Linked DNA regions of Homo sapiens. The protein of the gene in region 3 purifies or fractionates together with the protein of the main gene of each other region. This does not show direct contact. Each region holds a gene or a part of one and is shown on either strand. Other genes may lie near its edges.

Region 1 (3,500 bases), on a different chromosome or scaffold from region 3:
CAACCTCAGGTGATCTGCCCGCCTCGGCCTCCAAAGTGCTGGGATTACAGGCGTGAACCACTGCGCCTGGTCCCCCAGGGCCTTTCAAAAGACCACCTAGGCATTTGCCCAAGAAATGAAAGTGACCCATAGCTGAAAGTGACCGTATGTCTGTCTAAGTATATCTCCATCAATAACTGTATTTATCTATATAATCTATGTCCGTATATATCAATTCTACAGATGGCTGTATCTTTTTTTTTTTTTTTGAGATGGAGTTTCGCTCTTGTTGCCCAGGCTGGAGTGCAATGGTGCGATCTCGGTTCACTGCAACCTCCACCTCCCGGGTTCAAGCGATTCTCCTCCCTCAGCCTCCCAAGTAGCTGAGATTACAGGCAAGTGCCAGCACGCCCAGATAATTTTGTATTTTTAGTAGAGACGGGGTTTCTCCATGTTGGTTAGCCTGGTCTTGAACTCCCATCCTCAAGTGATCTGTCCGCCTTGGCCTCCCAAAGTGCTGGGATTACAGGCATGAGCCACCGCACCCAGCCTTACAGATAGCTATATCTATCTATTGCTCTATCTATTACTGTCTATCCATCTACCCATCATCCATCCATCCATCCACCCATCATCCATCCATCCATCCACTCATCTGTCCATCTATCCATCCACCCATCATCCATCCATCCATCTACTCATCCATCCATCATCTATCCATCATCTCCATCCATCCATCCTTCCATCCATCCCTCAATCATCTATCCATTCATCCATCTACTCATCCATCCATCCATCCATCTATCCACTCATCCATCCATCATCTATCTATCCATTATCTATCCATCATCCATCCATCTACTCATCCATCCATCATCCGTCCACCCATCCAGCCATCCATCCATCATCCACCCATCTCCCTCTCTCTCTCACTAGCTGCCAAGCTCTCACTCTCTGTGGGACTCTTCCTTCCTTCCTTGTGTGACCCGGGGAGGGAGGGCTGCCTTCCCAGCTCACAGTGCCCTCCCTGCCTAGGATCCGTAATAAATCTTCAAACTTGTTTCCTATCGCTGTGCTGAATTTGCGCCTTCTGTCAGAAGAACCAGGAGCTGCCCCAGGCTGGGATCCCAGTGCCAGAGCGATGGTCGGACAGGCATACCCTGGACACAGGTCAGACACGAGCTACGGGGCAGCCACTGTGTAAACAGGTCTCTCGTGTGAGGGGTCCCTGGTCGGGGGTCAGACAACCAGGTCTAAGGCCACCTGCCAGGTAAAAGCATCCGTGCCGGGTACCCTGAATCCCGGGTCTGGCTCCGGTTGTGTCCCGCCAGGGCAGGGCGGCCAGCCGCTCTGGCGCTGGACCTGGTGTAGCCAGGGCTCTCCACACACTAGAGGTGTGGCATCTGCTTGCTTTTGAGAGGCGTGAAGGCCAGAGACTTCGGCCACAAGGCTGATGCACCCCTGTCCGCAGCCCTCAGGGACACTAAGCTCTACTTCCCCACATGGAGCAGATCTCCAGCAGGGTCTGGGGTGCAGATCCCGCATCTCTGAGCACATGCCACACAGGCCAGGCCCTTTCGCTCAGAGGGCTGCGAGCCCTGCGGCCCTGCTGGGGATTTTTGCAGGGGTTTGGGGGAAGGTGGAATCTGTTGGGCAAATCCCGAGTGCCCGCTGTGTGGAAGGCACCGCTCTCACACCAGAGGTGCATCTAGAACCCTTGCCTTACACTGCGGGACGTCCTTGCGGAGGGAGGCATCAGCGACACAGGCTGCCTACCAGACAGGAGGTTGCCTGGGGGCAGGGCTGGAGTGGGGCTGGGAGACAACCCTGGGGGCAGAGACCTGAAGGAGCAGTGCTGGAGGAGCCAGGGCCACCGCTGCTGAAAGAGCCTTCCAGGCAGGCGAGCAGCAGTGCAAAGGCCCAGGGGTGAGGTGGAAGAGGCAGGCTGCAGACCAGCTCAGAGGACTGGAGCGGAGATCGGGGAATCCGGGAAGCTCCTCAGCAACTCGGTCTAAACCACAGGGTTCCGCAGGACTGCAGGGCACACCCAGAAGGCAGGGTGCGGGCTCCCAGGGCTCAGACCCGTTTCCTAAGCGCCAGGTGCTGAGTTAGAATCTTCAGCTGGGTGCCCGGGGTTTTGTGGCAGGCTCTGGCTTGTTAGGTCCTGCACGCTGCTCCCAGTGTTTCTCTCATTGTGGGGTTTTGGAGATAAATTTGTTAGGATAAGAAAAACATTAGGCTTGGCCCAGTGGCTCATACCTATACCCAGTGCTTTGGGAGGCTGAGGTGGGAGGATCACTTTAGCCTGGGAGTTGAAGACCAGCTTGAGCAACATAGCGAGACCTCATCTCTACAAATAATAAAAAAATTAGGCCAGGCATGGTGGTTTACATCTGTAATCCCAGCACTCTGGGAGGCCAAGGCGGGTGGATCGCTTAAGTCCAGGAGTTTGAGACCAGCCTGGCCAACTTGGTAAAAAAATTAGCTGGGCAAGGTGGTGTGAGCCTCTAATCCCAACTATTCAGGAGGCTGAGGCAGGAGAATCGTTTGAATTTGGGAGGTGGATGTTGCAGTGAGCCGAGATTGCACCACTGCACTCCAGCCTGGGTGACAGAGCAAGACTATGTCTCAAAAGGAAATAAATAAAAAATAAAAAAAATTAGTTGGGTGTAGTGGTGCATGCCTGGGGTCCCAGCTACTCGGGGTGGGGCTGAGGCAGGATCACCTGAGCCTGGGAGTTCGAGGCTGCAGCGAGCTATGATTGTGCCACTGAGCTCCAGCCTAGGCAACAGAGACCCTGTCTTAATGAAAAGGAAAAGACGGGCCTCTCTGTAGATGCCACGCACTGCTCAGGAGATTGTGAACTGGGAATTCCTCAACACCTAGGGCGGGCACTGTGTACCATTTTCTTTTTTTAATGTTTTAATTTGAGGTGAAATTCACATCCTGTACATTTCAACATCTTAAAGTGAACAGTTGAGAGGCGCCTGGTGCGGGGCCAGCAGCAGCTCTGTCCCATCTGCACGGTGTAGTTCTGACATTTCAGAGCTCCGTGCACCCCTGACCAAGCTCTAGTCATCCCACAGCCTGCATGGCTCCACTGATGAACCTGCTTATTAAACACGGTGGGTGCTGGAGGTAGACAGCACAGAGCTGCTGCCTGAGCAGGTCCCGGGGTGCACCTGTGCTGTGTGGGATGTGCTGAGAGTGGGCAGCCTGTCCTGGCTGGTGCCTGGCCCCAGGGTCCCCGGCTCATGGCCACCATCAGGGCACAAATGGTCCCTCCTGGAGCCCCAGGCCCCGGGCAGGCGGGCGGTGGTCCCTGGGCTGACCTGGAGGGTCTCCTGTTGGGGAAGGGAAGTCAGCTCTCCACGGGAGCAGCGCCAGCCCAGGAAGGAGGAGGGCGTCGGATGGAGAGGTCACCTGCAACCACGCATGGGGGCCCCGGCACTGTTGGACACAGGGTCCCCGGTCATTCCTCTGGCCACACTCCAACTCAGGGACAACGTGGATTCTCAAGC
Region 2 (3,500 bases), on a different chromosome or scaffold from region 3:
TTACCCATTATTAAGCGGTAGTCAAATGTTAAATCCATAAATAACTGTTACTGTTAAGGTATTCCTAATATAAGTGAAAGGTTAACTGAATCATTCAAATTGAAAATATTTATTCTCCATTAATGGTAAATCATTTTGCATTCAATACCCACATTGTTTTAGTTGGTACACTTAAACTGATTAGCATATAGGAATTTTATGACTTTTACCTTTGGCTTCTTTCCAAAGAGCCACAATTTGCCCTTGGCCTTTCCTACTGTGGTTTTGGCATCCATCTTCCCACTCTCCTGTTTGGATGCACTGATAGTCCCATCAGAAATGGTTCTATATATATGTTGACTGTAATCTTCAAATGGAAAGTCTCCTGGAGGTTCAAAACCAGATTTGAAGGAGTCTACCACCATTTGAGAGTCCTATACAAAAGAAACTAGGTTTTAAAACTGTTTCACTTGCTCATAATTCTACATCAGCTTTCATAACTTTTTCAGTACAAAAAAACAACAAATATAAGTTTAAATAAATAATTCCACAATAATCATTAAGGTAAATAATTTATTCCCATGAATGTGTAACAAACTCAAAGTATTTTAATCCCAAAAGAAAAATATACTTGCAAATTACAACTTAATTAATTTATAATATTCATAAAATGTTTTTACTTGGTAGCTTTAACCACCTGAAATTCATCTGAAGACTACTTAGCTGAAAAAGACCTAACTGACAAAAAGAATACAGAAAGAGGTTATTAACAAGTAGAAATTCTGAGAAGTTTCAAAGGAAAAAGGCTTTTTGCTTTAAAAGATAGATGTCAACAAAGAAGCTAATCTTTGGAATGAGGAAAGAACATCTAATTGTAAAAGAGAGTAAAAGATGAGTAGGAAAGGCTTTCTAACTCATCCAACATGGGAAAAGATAAATAAATTAAATATATACTGTGGAATGTTAACAGAGCAACAGGGAAAAGATCTCATAAACACTACTGAGTGCAAACAACATTTGAAAGTTTAATACCATGTATTTAAAATTTTTAAACTCACATAAATATTGTTTTTAGACATACATACCTCTACCTGAATGCTTTAGTGATACCTTAAACTCATTATTTTCAGAGTATCTCTACAAATTCCTCCCCACCCCTAACAACAACCTCTCTTTTGTTGCCTATTTCTGTTAACAGTACATTTTGCCCTTCATTTAGTCAAAAGTCATCCTTAAGTCATAGCTTACTTTTGTCAGTAATGCTACCCTCAGCAATAATTTGCTAAAGGGTAATTAGAGAGAAGAGGGCTGTAATGATATTGTATAAACTTGTATCCAGCCATGCTGAAAGCCAAAAATCCTCTTTTCTAAATTTAAGTGAGAATTCTATTAGCTGTAACAGAAAGGATCCTCACTAATATAATATCTACTTGATAGGTTCATGAAGACTAAAATATGTGACACATATCTGATATCCTGCAAACACCAGTTCTCTTCTCTTGCCACTGCCTTTCCTCAGTTTCTGCCAACCATGCTTTTTGATCACTCAATCAACATTTACTGAGATAAAAGACCCTAGTCCTTAATCAAGATACAATGTGATTACCTATCCTCAAGGGGAGGAGGGCTATGCTGTTTCATCTGCACATAATGCCCTCCTTCCTCCTCCTCATTGGTCATCACTCCATATGCTACCCACATTTCTTGATCCAGCTCAAGTGCTAAAGGCAACTCTAACCACATACTTCTCTAAATTTTCACTAAACTAATATAATAGTATAACACAATTTGTAACACACAGTTCCTAGGTTAGACTCTTTGATAAGAACTGAAAACTTAGTGGGAGAAGAGAGTTAGAAATCTTTTTTTTTTTTTTAAGAAAGAATTAGAACTTTTGCATGTAGAATGAATCTCAGAACTCAAAGGAATCTATTGCAAGACATTCTTCTACAGAATATAATTTAGAACCACACATCAGATTACTTTATCCCTTTCTCAACTCATTTCACTAACTTAAACTGCACACCTAAACCAAACAGATGCATTCAAAGATAATTATTTAGCACTTACTCTTCTTTCATCAACTGATTTTGCTGCAAGAATCATTCCTTCCAAACATTTTGAAATGATGGGAATAACTTTGCGTTCTGAGTCAGCAAATCCTCTGTAACACTCACTGAGTTTAATAGTCCTTCGTTCGTCCATTTCTTGTAGTTGCTAATAATCAAGAATTTTTTTAAAAAGAGAAAACTGAATTTTTCAATCATTCTAAAGGAGTTCAATTAGTGATCCCCCATCAAAAATTAAATATTTCTACCCTCATAGTTACACTGTTGTTAATACCTTTTAACAAGTGCTATTGACTTATAATACTTAAAACCTGGGACATGCTAAACAACAAAAGAAAGAAAAAAAATAGTAAGGCACTTAGTATTGTTTTCCTAAAACCAGATGACACTGGGATTCTAGCCTTCTAAAAGGACCCCTTACTGGCTATCAGCTCCCTGCCCCATAGCACTCCCACCTTTTACTATTCAATCAGAGTAGTTCTTGTTTATGCTTCCAGAAAACATTTCATTTGATGACAAAATTCTGGTGCTTTTTTTTTTTTTTAAAGCAACTGGCCCATAACATATACAAGACTGAGACTTTTTTTTTTTTTTTTTTTTGAGGCGGAGTCTCGCTCTGTCGCCAGGCTGGATGGAGTGCAGTTGCGCGATCTCGGCTCACTGCAACCTCCACCTCCCAGGTTCAAGCAATTCTCCTGCCTCGGTCTCTCAAGTAGCTGGGACTACAGGCACGTGCCACCATGCCCAGCTAATTTTTGTATTTTTAGTAGCGATGGGGTTTCACCATGTTGGCCAGGATGGTCTCAATCTCTTGACCTCGTGATCCACCTGCCTCGGCCTCCCAAAGTGCTGGGATTACAGGCGTGAGCCACTGCCCCCGGCCAAGTCTGAGACTTCTAACCTCAAGTTAATTCAGGATACTTTGGTAAGACTTGGCTGGACCAACAGTCCATACTAGTTGTTTATCAACAGGTACCCAGACCTACTGCAGTGTACACCTCAGAGCTGGGGATACGTGAGGAAAAACAGGAAGTCACAAGCTCAAAGTGGCACATATAGAATCCTCACAACTGAAAATTCACTGGCACATGCCACTAGGAAATATGTTGGAACACATAAAGTCCAATAACTTAAAGGCATTTTTTTTTTGACATATCCTATTTGCCAGCACTGACCTTGCTGTTTCATTGACAGCAGTTACACTCCTTGTCTCCCCAAACTCCCACAGCCTGGGACTTTGAGACCTGCATTTTCACAGAATTGCTCCATAGAAAGGTCCAAATCCAAGTATCAGGCCCAAAACACAAAAGGTAGTTTATCTCCACAAGTTATAGTTTCCCCAGAATATGAAGACTTAACTACTAAGCCTAGAAAAGCATCACAGTGAAGACTGGCAGGCTTGGCCCTCTGGATTCAATGACCAGAATTCTGGTCCCCACTCCAGTTCATTAT
Region 3 (3,500 bases):
ACCAAAATGAAGGTTAAAAAAAGTAAATTGAATTCTGTGGGAAAATAAACATTTATTCTAAAAATAAGCTCTAAAGTTGGAAAATGAAAGCAAAACATCTGCTTCCTGGACAGAAAGAAGAGTTTGAAATTGCTAGACAGCCACAAGCTTCCCAAAGGCGGTGGAGTTCCAGGTGCCAGCTCAATTGGATGCCCCACGCCCGAGGGAAGAGGCCTGACTCTCTGACTCTCCCCCCAACCTCCTGCCTGACCTACAACTACATCCACACAGATGTAGCATAATTTTATTATTTGCTGTCTTTATCAAATAGCATTTGAAATAAACTGCTTTTGATTATTAATAAAAGGGATACTTACTAATCCCCTCTAAAAGGAATGACCATAAATTACCAGTATATTTGTATGGCTACTGATCCACTTTCTCTAGAGAAAAAAAAAATGGTCCTTATTGCCCATCATTAAAAAAAAAAAATCATTGATAAATTACTTTGATGGAGACAAACTGGGAAGGAAAATGATTAATTGCTATTTAAGAGCATGGCTTCCTCACGATGACTTGCAGGTCTGGGATAACAGAATTCTGCAGGAAATCTAGACAGCTTCAGGCTGACTGCTGACAGCAGCTCAGCAGAAGGTGAAACCCAGCAGACCCACACAGTGAGGATCTTAGAAGATAAGAGCAAAGAATATTCTCTCCAGATTTGCTAACCCAGTAATCGGTGGGTTAGTACACTCTGTTATCTCTCACATATATACAGCAGAACAGGCAGTAAGGCCTGGGCTTCCATAAAACTCTAATGAAAAACTTTGCTCTGAGACCCATTCAATGTGCACAGCGCTCTTTGGGGGACGAGTTTGGGTCCGCCCAGCCCTGCTGGGCTAACAGGAAGCCCATGGCAGGGCCTGTGTTGGTCTGGCAGGTCTAACTCACAGTAAGGGAAATAGAAGGGAAGGAACAAAGCAGTCCAAAGCCAAATTTGGAATTGGTTCTGATTTTCCTCTAATGTCCTATTGATTGGGTCACGGCTCTTAGAAGGCCTACTACAAGGCAGGGCAATGTCTCAGAGATACCTTCAAGGAAAAGATCCTCACTGACTTTGGCAGCTTTGGCCCAGACAAAAATGTCTGCAGCACCAGTGCTCCTAGAGGCTGCTGCAGCCTCAGCCTCCAGTTCCCAGGCTCCCCACCACTGGCTAATGCCTAGGCCTCTGCAGCTGAATTCCAAGAGCTGCACAGCAGCAATGATACCTGCAAAGCTGTGCACCAGAAACCAAGCCTGCTTTGCAATGTATGCAAAGCAGTCAAGGAATAGAAAACAAGGCTCCAGAGACAAAACTTTGTCTTCACTCCCCAACTCATAGCCTCTAAATCCACACAATTCAACCCGACCCAACCAGCCTTCTCCTTCCCGCACACCCACAGTTCCTCACCTACTCCCAGACACTTTGAACATCACTCATTTTAAACAAGAGGACAAGCCCCACTTGGACCATCACTGGGCAGTAGCTGTTGAAATCGTTTCTAAGAATCCTTTTCTACTTAGGAGGCCAACATTATTTTTGGAAGACTTGAATGGGTGTTCAGTGACAACGAACCACCTCAACCATTTGTTGAGGACTTCAGTGGACCAGGCTCCCTCCAACCTCATGACAGCCCTCTGAGGATGGGGCCGCTGTGAACCCACTGTGCAGACTGGAAAAAAAAGTCCTCCCCACCAAATCAAGGTACCATTACTTCTTCCATTTGCTTTATCTTAGTGGGTCTCGTGGGTGCCAAATTTTAGCTCAGGGCTTTGCTCCACCCAACATCAAGCAAATGTCACTTCCAAGAAAAATACTCTATGCCTTTCGGTATGCTTCTCACTCCAGCAACTGCTAGACTCTCTTGAAGGTAAAAAGAAAAATGCTGCCATCAATCAGGCAAGAACCAAATTCTCCCGTAAATCTTGCTCTGCCCTTCCAATGCCCAGAAGTGCAGCTGTTCCTCTCTCCTCTGACCACCATCACAACGTTAAAGAAACATGGTATCAGGAGCTTTCCCCATCTTTGAACTACTTCAAAAGACTCCCCTATCTATAGCGCATGGATCTTTTGTTCACTTACTCATTCCATTGCCAAAGAATGACAGAGGACCTTCTATACAGGGCAGCGTTAGGGCAGCTGTCCCTGCCTCCAAAGAGTTTAAAGTCTAGTGGGGAAAGTAAATGACAAAAGATAAAAATTATAACACAAGTGAGCCATTATTACCATAGCATGCTTTTAGAATGCAGGTTCCTTTTTTTTTTTTTGTGTGAGATGGAGTCTCACTCTGTCGCCCAGGCTGGAGTACAGTGGTGCAAGCTTGGCTCACTGCAACCTCCACCTCCCGGGTTCAAGCGATTCTCCCGCCTCAGACTCCCCAGTAGCTGGGATTACAGGCGCCCGCCACCATGCCCAGCTAATTTTTGTATTTTTAGTAGAGACGGGGTTTCGCCATGTTGGCCAGGCTGGTCTCGAACTCCTGACCTCAGGTGATCCACCCTCCTTGGCCTCCCAAAGTGCTGGGACTACAGGCGTGAGCCACCACGCCCGGCCTAGAATGCAGGTTCCAGGCAAACAGGAATTTTGTTTGCCCTGTACTGCAATACTCCCTGAACCAGAGCAGTGTCTGGGACACAGTAGACATCTAATAAAGGTACATATGCCATAGTGCATATAATTCAATAACAGTCATAACATTTGCCCAGAGATACTTGTAGCTACCATTTATTAAGCATTTCCTAGTGCTGAGCACTGCTAGGTACTTTTCACAGGTTATCTATGTTATCACTGTGGTTACCACATTACCACAGTGCAATCCTTAACTACTCCCATTTTGCAAGTAAGAAAATTAATGTGCAGAGAATTAAGCTCTGGATTCCATAGTCAGCAACAAACTAAACCTGTCCCAGTGGAAAGCCTGTGCTCCTAACCATGAGGCACACAGTGGCCAGGGAGTGCTTCCCAAAGGACGGATTGAAGTGAAGGGACAGAAAGGGGAAAGTTCAAAGCAGAAGGAACACGTGCAGACTAAGGAAACAGACCAAGGAGGGGCTGAAACTTTTGTCAGTTAAATACAATGGGTTTTATCAAATCTTTTCATAGTCGCTGACGCCCTTAATATGACTTGGATGTGAGCACTTCGAGAGAAAGTACTAGTAACCCAGCAGAGTATGTTTAAGTAGGGCAACTCCTACATTGTTAAAATGACTTTAAGTTTTATATTCAGAACTCCAGAACCTGCAACTTAGGGAAGGCGAGCCATGAGGAAGGACTTTCAAGTCCTCTTAGTCCTCCCTCGGAAAGAGGAAAACTTTAGAAAAATATAAGGATAAAAATCAAGTGCTTTATAACTGCACACCTAAAGTCCAAATTCCAATCCTATGTGCTTCTACTGATTTAAGAAATTAACAGGCAACCGCGGGCTCTTTTACTCCAATACTCATAGGATCATGACCCAAAACATTCTCAATAATAGAGGAGA
Region 4 (2,417 bases), on a different chromosome or scaffold from region 3:
TAGCCCAAACATCACAACTCTAACTCAATCTCCCAGTTTTCTGAGAGTTGCTATGAGGACGAGATGAAGTAATAAAACACAGGAGCTAAGAACAGCACATGCCAAATAGTAAGAACACAATAAATATTAACTACAATTGGCATTTCCCATGGAGAAACAAGTTCCATTTTGTAGTTGGCTGTTAACAGGTCACAGCACAGGAGAAGGTAACAAGGGCCTAAGACACATCTATATATCCATATTATAACAAGAAACCTGGGTCGGGCATGGTGGCTCACACCTATAATCCCAGCTACTCTGGAGGCTGAGGTGGGAGGATCACTTGAAGCCCAGGAGTTCAAGACCAGCCTGGGCAACATAGTGAGACTCCATTTCTACAGAAAATTAAAAGAAAGCCAGGCATGGTGGCAAAGGCTTACAGTCCTACTACTACGGAGTCTGAGGCAAGAGGATCACTTGACCCCAGGAGTTCAAGACTGCAGTGAGCTAGGATTCAGCCACTGCATTCTAGCCTGGGCAACAGAGCAAGACCCTATCTCTTTAAAAAAAAAAAAAAAAAAAAAAAGAAAAGAAAAAAATTTAGCATGTAATGCAGACAGCATAAATGCTGAAAATAGAAGGACTTAAAGTGACATTCATTCCAACAGTTACTAGACTGGCTATGTGATCTCAGACAAGCGATTTAACCTTTCTCTGTTTTTTTTTGAGATGAAGTCTAGCTCTGTCGCCAGGCTGGAGTGCCCTGGTGCGATCTTGGCTCACTGCAACCTCTGCCTCCTGGGTTTAAGTGATTCTCCTGCCTCAGCCTCCCGAGTAGCTGGGATTACAGGCTTGCGCCACCATGCCTGGCTAATTTTTGTATTTTTAGTAGAGATGGGGTTTCACCATGTTGGTCAGGCTGGTCTCTAACTCTTGACCTCAGGTGATCCACCCACTTCGGCCTCCCAAAGTGCTGGGATTACAGGTGTGAGCCACCGCGCCAGGTCTTTTTTTTTTGAGATGGAGTCTCACTCTGTTGCCCAGGCAAGAATACACTGGTGTGATCTCAGCTCACTGTAACCTCTGCTTCTTGGGTTCAAGTGATTCTTCTGCCTCAGCCTCCGGAGTAGCTGGGATTACAGGCACATGCCACCACGCCCAACTAAATTTTTTATGTTTTTAGTAGAGACGGTTTTGCCATGTTGGTCAGGCTGGTCTTGAACTCCTGGCCTCAAGTGACCCGCTCACCTCGACCTCCCAAAGTGCTGGGATTACAGGTGTGAGCCACCATGCCCAGCCCAATTTAACCTTTCTAAGCTTTGAATGTCCATTTTCCTCATCTGTAAAAGAAGACAATAGCTGCCACCTCACAGGATTTTTGAGAGAATTATAGCAGGCGTCAAATACTCAAGTTCCTTCCACACAGCCTGGCACGCAACTCTAATGCTTGTTTTCTCCCTTCCCTCTGTGAAAGGGGAAACTATAATCATTCCTAAGCTATCGAGAAAGGGCTTGGTGCTGCCTGGCTCTGAGGTGCTCTCTCGAGCCTGTTACTCTAAAGACGAGACACAACAAGAGCAGAAAGCAAGGCCCTTCTAGGAAACTCATCCTCGGCCAACCACGACTCACCCTCCAGGATCTCCTGGCCCAGCGTTGGGGGCTGGGAGTCATCCGTGCGGAAGTCGGAGGTGTGTGCTGGGCTCAGGGACTCACTCTGCTGGGGGCTGGGGCTTGAGTTGGTGCTGCTGTCCACCTTAAGCTGATAGACGTCAGACACGGAACTCTGGTTGCTGTTTTCGTCTGAAAACCAAACAGAACAAAGGCAGCAGCTGAGCGTGGTCATTTTCCTCAAGAGGAACTCTGGACAGAGCCAAGGGCCTGGCATCACTTTAGGCAGCCAAGGATACAACTGAGTATAATAATCATTGTGCCCGGCCTACACGACATAGATTCTAAGCACCAGAGGCAGCCAGAATCTTTATGTTTATGCAACATTACACTTTAGGAAGGTCAGGATATGCTTATTAAACTCTTCTTTATTATCCACTGATTGCAGCTTGTGGAAGGGAGGGATGTAGCTGTGTCTCTGGTCAGTACTTCTCAATCCTTCTCACATCATAAGATGTGTAGAAAATGACATTTGTCAGGCATCCTTGGGCATCTGAAGGAGGCTGGTGGTGTCTGAAGGTGGTGAGCTCAGGCTTCGGCTGCCGGACTGACGGATTAGCACCTGGGAGTTCTGCCTGAAGGCTTAAAGTCACCATCAAGGTGCAAAACTTAAGAGTTACCAGGCCGAGGCCAGGCACGGTGGCTCACGCCTGTAATCCCAGCACTTTGGGAGGCCGAGGTGGGCAGATCACAAGGTCAGGACATCGAGACCATCCTGGCTAACACGGTGAAACCCCGTCTCTACTAAAATTACAAAAAATTAGCCGGCT

The links. The genes of interacting proteins can lie anywhere in the genome.
Region 1: the proteins of ARHGAP44 (region 3) and LMNB2 purify together in Homo sapiens (affinity purification with mass spectrometry, with the first as the bait; one large-scale study listed by BioGRID). This does not show direct contact.
Region 2: the proteins of ARHGAP44 (region 3) and FNBP1L purify together in Homo sapiens (affinity purification with mass spectrometry; 2 studies listed by BioGRID and IntAct, with this or other methods). This does not show direct contact.
Region 4: the proteins of ARHGAP44 (region 3) and BCL7B purify together in Homo sapiens (affinity purification with mass spectrometry; one large-scale study listed by BioGRID and IntAct). This does not show direct contact.

The regions. Positions count from the first base shown.
Region 1 is NC_000019.10:2,439,960-2,443,459, forward strand, and holds part of LMNB2 (lamin-B2), read right to left. Parts: intron 1-3,500. UniProt on the Homo sapiens protein: Lamins are intermediate filament proteins that assemble into a filamentous meshwork, and which constitute the major components of the nuclear lamina, a fibrous layer on the nucleoplasmic side of the inner nuclear membrane.
Region 2 is NC_000001.11:93,531,618-93,535,117, reverse strand, and holds part of FNBP1L (formin-binding protein 1-like), read right to left. Parts: intron 2,197-3,500; coding exon 2,050-2,196; intron 414-2,049; coding exon 210-413; intron 1-209. UniProt on the Homo sapiens protein: Required to coordinate membrane tubulation with reorganization of the actin cytoskeleton during endocytosis. May bind to lipids such as phosphatidylinositol 4,5-bisphosphate and phosphatidylserine and promote membrane invagination and the formation of tubules.
Region 3 is NC_000017.11:12,792,498-12,795,997, reverse strand, and holds part of ARHGAP44 (rho GTPase-activating protein 44), read right to left. Parts: intron 1-3,500. UniProt on the Homo sapiens protein: GTPase-activating protein (GAP) that stimulates the GTPase activity of Rho-type GTPases. Thereby, controls Rho-type GTPases cycling between their active GTP-bound and inactive GDP-bound states. Acts as a GAP at least for CDC42 and RAC1.
Region 4 is NC_000007.14:73,538,274-73,540,690, forward strand, and holds part of BCL7B (B-cell CLL/lymphoma 7 protein family member B), read right to left. Parts: intron 1,780-2,417; coding exon 1,609-1,779; intron 1-1,608. UniProt on the Homo sapiens protein: Positive regulator of apoptosis. Plays a role in the Wnt signaling pathway, negatively regulating the expression of Wnt signaling components CTNNB1 and HMGA1.